Regions from separate parts of the Homo sapiens genome. Here region 2 is linked to region 1. The links come from fine-mapping of genetic effects on gene expression. A gene starts in region 1. The other region holds a variant in brackets. All regions are shown on one strand. Distances are between the middles of the regions.

Region 1 (2,500 bases):
TCAAAAAAACAAAAAATAGGCTGGGCGCAGTGGCTCATGCGTCTCAAAAATAAATAAATAAATAAATAAATAAATAAATAAATAAATAAATAAAATTAAACCAACCCACAGTCCCTTAAAAGCTGGGCTCTTGCACAACCCTAAACTGCCTCAGATAAGCCGTGGTCAGTTTGTGAGACTCATTGATCGTGTGCAATTGTGGTCCCATGGCACGCTTTGGATTCAAATTCTCATCCAACTTCCCTTGCTACCCCAGGTCGCCCTCAAACTTTGTTCTTTTATTCATATCTGGCAGGAAGCTCAGATGAGTAAGAGAAATATCTTGTTTTCTGATGGTCAAATCTTGATTTATTATCACTCAGGGCCATTATCGTCTAAATGTTCTCCGTGGTTCTAAAGCTTTAGTGTACGAGATCACGAGGATGTGAAAGGTACTTTTGAAAAATTCAGGTCTCAGAACTCCAGCCCCAGTGATGCTGATTCTAAAATTCTAGGGATAGGGAGTGGGGGACGCAGGTGGAATCAGAAATCTGCCGTAAGAATAAAATAACCACAGGCCACCCTGACAAAGGTGGTCTTCTGGCCTCCCTTTAAGAAGCACTGGGGAGGACCTCAACCCCTTCTGATGGTTGGACAGTGATATTTTACCAGCAGAGGCAGGACCCTGATGCGTTCCAATGGGGTGTTCCTCTCTGAGCTCTTTGGACGGAATGACAACCCCAAGCAGCAGAGCGTGTTAGCAACAGGTACCCCAAAGGCTGGCTTGCCCGTGTATCTCTGTGCAGGGACGCTTTCACGGCGTTGTTTCCCTCCAGAGTGCACAGTGAGAGGAAGAGCGGCCAGCTCCGCCCGTGGCGGTCCCCACCCTGCGCGCCCGGCCACTTACTTGCCCACCACCAGGCTGGCGCCTTCCAGCACCGCCAGGCTGCGCAGCGCATCCCGCGCCAGGAAGCGCTCGCCGCGGGCGCACACCAGCACCACTTGCTGCGCGTTCTCCAGCAGGAGGCTGTGGCCGCTTGCCATGTCGCCTCGCGCCGAGGGTCGCCGGGAGGCCACCGGGCTCGGGCCACCGGCAGGACTCAGTGGAGGACGAAAAGCCGCAGCCTGCGCTGTCCGGGGCTGGGAGGGTGGGGCGGGGGCGGGCGCTCGCAGCCGCTGCCCTTTGCTCGCCTCCCCCAACCACAGCAACGGGGGCGGTAATCATTGCAAGAATGGCAACGAGTAATAAACCTGATGAGGAATCCTCTCTTTTTTGGTCGTCTTGTCCCATCCCGAGTAAACGAGATGGAGACTAGTGTCCCTACTTTTCAGATAAGGAAACTTAAGCTTGGTCACCCCGAGAGATCAAAGTGAGCTGTGTGGATCACGTGGTATGTGGAAGCGCGTCAAGGGTTGGCTGGGTGAGGGCACCCGGAGTGTTCGGGAGTGAGGGACCGGAACCTGGGGTAGAGCCCCGGAAGGGGGGCCATGGGGGAAACCTCTGCCCGGGGGGTTGGGGTGGGAGCCTGGAGATAGCGCTCCTGGAGAGGGCAGAGTAGGGGAAAGCTGTGCCCAGGGGCAGGGACGGGAGCTTGGAGGTAGAGCCCCGGGAGAGGACAGAGTGGGGGAAACCTCTGCCTAGGGTGCTGGGACGCGAGCCTGGAGGCAGAGCCCCGGGAGGGTACTGCGTGGAGGAAACATCTGCCCACAGGTTCTGGGGCGGGAGCCCGGGACGCGGAGGGCCGCGAGCCGAGGGAACCTGGGGGTGGGGAGGAGGGGGATGCGGTAGGGGAGGTGCTCCTGGGTCCGCGCGGGTGGCGGGTGCCCCGCACTTATCCGTTGGCCAGCTGCGTTCCGGGATCAGCTACCAGACGGTCCCTGAGATGACCGGGAACCGGGCTGGGGGAGGATAGAGCCGAGACTGGAGGATCGATTGGCACCTCCGCCCACTTTTCCCACAACGCCTTCCCGAACGATAGGTTGGAAAGGCTCCTGGATCCAAACTCGCTGAGGTAAAATAGGTTTCAGCTCAGTGTCCGCCCCTCCGCATGCCCCCTCCCACCCCTCAGCTGTGTCTGGTGGGCCTACAAGCAACTTGCGACCAAAATTGGAGACAGAATCAAGTTTATGGAAGATGGTCTGTGATTCTCAGCCTCGTCGCTTCCTGCTACCAATTGCTATGGAAACACTGCCAGGCCCAGGCTTTTGAGTCCTTAATTACTTGATTTCGTTTATTCATGTTTATCACAAGCTCTGTGTTAAGTCTTGTGGAACATACAAAGATAGGAAAGGCGCTTTCCCTGCCCAGTAAAGACTTTACAATAAAAGTGATAGATGTGGACACAAATAATATACTATAAAAGCAGACTAAGCCTGCAAACCCACAAAATATAAAAGTTAATTTAGTCTCATTAAAAAAACCTGGAACAGAAAGCAAACACTCCTTTAGATGACCACGATAAATAAGAATATAATTTAGCTTCATATTATGGCCTATAAAAGAGAGATCAGTTAGGAAAGA
Region 2 (2,500 bases), 38 kb before region 1:
ACATCTCTAACTCTTTCAAAGTTAGAAACTTTCTTGCACACAGCAAGTTCTCAGTTAATAGGTAATGAATATTCTTGAGCCCAAGAGGCAAAGATTAGCTCTTTAGAACCAGGAAGAAGGATCTGTTACTGCCTTTTCCTGGGTGCTTGCTGGTTTAAGTAAAGTGCATGATGGAATAGAATTATCTGAGGCTGGGTTTGGTGGCTCACACCTGTAATCCCAGCACTTTGGGAGGCCAAGGTGGGCTGATCACTTGAGGCCAAGAGTCCAAGACCAGCCTGGCCAACATGGCAAAACCCTGTCTCTACTAAAAATACAAAATTTAACTGGGTGTGATGGTGCATGCCTGTAATCCCAGCTACTCAGGAGGCTGAGGCACAAGAAATCACTTGAACCCGGGAGGCAGAGGTCGCAGTGAGCCGAGATGGCGCCCCTGCACTCCAGCCTGGGTGACAGAATGATACAGAAAATAAAAAAAGAATTACCTCAGAGTAATAATATTCAGCAAATTTAAACTTGCCACCTACTTAAAATGGATTCATGAGGACATATTGGCCACCATCTGCTGTTGAACGCTGACACCAGATTACTGAGTAAAGAATTTGAAAATTTTCTCAAAATTGATTGTTCCAGACATTTTGGTAGTTGCTCATCAGCAGAGTTTCCCATTCAACAGATTCTTCTATGGAACACAAATTTGCAGTGCCCATTGAAGAAACAGAAGTTGCTTTCAAACAGATGTGTTGGTCTCTGTTTTTAGTTTCAGGCTATAAACCTTTTGAGGGCAGGTACTAACCACCAGGTTAGTACAGTTATGGTGCTTTAGAATCTAATCTCAAGAGAAAACATCATTTCAAGGTTCATGTTTTTTCAGCCTCCAAATTGGGTGTACATGATCCACCTTTAAGGCTTTTTGTTTTTTGCTTTTGTGCCCCTTTATATCTCTTGCAGGAAGACTTGTCTCTTTCCCTCCACC[C/T]CACATTTGTACACAGACTGCCACCTCCACGTTAAAAAAGAAGGCAGGAAGGGGTTGTACTTGAAGTGACCAGCAAACATTATCTTCAAGCCTTAACCTCTTTTGAAAGATGGTCTTTGCCAATAGGGGAGAGACAGTTTCTGGAGGAAACTTCCATGGTGAATACCCAGCCAAAGTAAGCTTTTTAAAACTGCTCCTGACCCAGAAGGCACATTTCAATATAGGCTGACTAAATGGAGACCCTCTTTCAGGCCCTAGACTACTTGGCCATTGGCATCCATGAACTTGCTGCAATCAGTGAGAGAAGAATCGAGCGGCTCTGCAATCCCTCCCTCAGTGAGCTGCCTGCCTTCCTGGTGGCTGAAGGTGGTCTGAACTCTGGGTTCATGATAGCTCACTGCACGGCAGCAGCCCTTGGTAAGGACACTGCCCCTTTCCCAGAACACACGCCCGTCCATCTAAGGGTCTTTCCATTTCACCTAGAAGTATCAAATGTGGTCTGTGAGTGAGATCTAACTTTTCACCACTTTTATCTGCATCCTAGTTCTCTCAGTGCAAAGGTAACAGGTTAACTCTAATATTTTTCAGAAAAAAATAGTTTAAAAACTTCGATACTGTTATGCTGAAATATAATAATACAATAATAAGGCTGTAATGGACAATTTCTCTGTGGAAAGCAATTTGACATTGCATATGAACTTCATCTCTATAGCTTTTTTCCAAATCTCCATTTGAAGACTATTGGAAAAAGACTAAGATGGTTATAGTTAATGGTGAAACTTGAACCAACCTATAATTAAACTTTGAACTTTTAAACCTATAATTAAACTTTGGATTCATTTCACTAGATATAACAACCACTAAAAACATAAAGATGTTATTGCAACATTAAAAAAATGCTTATAAGAATCAGGATACCCTCTGTGAAGATTGAGCTTCAATATAGTTTATTTCTGACTCAAGATTGTAAGAGACAGATTAACACATCAGAACAGTGCCTGGCACTAAGTAAGTACTAAGGGCCTCATTTATGTTCATTCACTTAATTGCACAATTGTCACCTGAGGTAAGTGCTATTATTGTTATCTATAGATGAATATCTGAAGATCTGAGAGTTAAGTGACTTGCCCAATATTGCACAGCTAGCAAGATGTAAAGCAGAATTCAAACCCTGAATTTTGGCATGCAAAAATGTGCTTTTACTTCAATTAATGAGGATCTCATTTTAATCAATACTTAATCCTAAAATAGGGTTGTCAAATTTAACAAAAACACAGGATGACTAGTTAAATTTGAATTATTTGGGACATACTTGTACTACAAAAATTATTTTTTTAATCTAAAATCAAAATTTAACTGGGCATCCTTTACTTTATCTAACAACCCTACCCTAAAAGGCAGGATAGCATGAGTTATTACATGCGTAGATGCTAGATCAGAAGCCCAGCTCTGCCATTTACTAGCTCTGTGAGCCTCTTTATCCTGTTGATCCTCAATTTACACCTGCATAAAATGGAGATCAGT

Evidence for each region. PIP is the estimated chance that this variant, and not a neighbour inherited with it, causes the effect. A credible set is the group of variants that fine-mapping cannot tell apart.
Region 2: its variant is the best candidate, but not a certain one, in a credible set for the expression of AMDHD1 in sun-exposed skin (GTEx, PIP 0.61).

The regions. Positions count from the first base shown.
Region 1 is chr12:95,941,922-95,944,421 of GRCh38, reverse strand. AMDHD1 (amidohydrolase domain containing 1) reads right to left here and starts at 1,091. Exons shown (of 9, transcript NM_152435.3): 1 at 887-1,091. The coding sequence starts at 1,023. CCDC38 (coiled-coil domain containing 38) reads left to right here and starts at 1,808. Exons shown (of 16, transcript NM_182496.3): 1 at 1,808-1,991.
Region 2 is chr12:95,979,449-95,981,948 of GRCh38, reverse strand. It overlaps HAL (histidine ammonia-lyase), which reads left to right. Exons shown (of 21, transcript NM_002108.4): 16 at 1,086-1,151; 17 at 1,228-1,393. Among named protein-coding and RNA genes, the nearest start is that of HAL, 16 kb to the left of the region's middle. The variant C/T (reference allele first, on the strand shown) is at 977.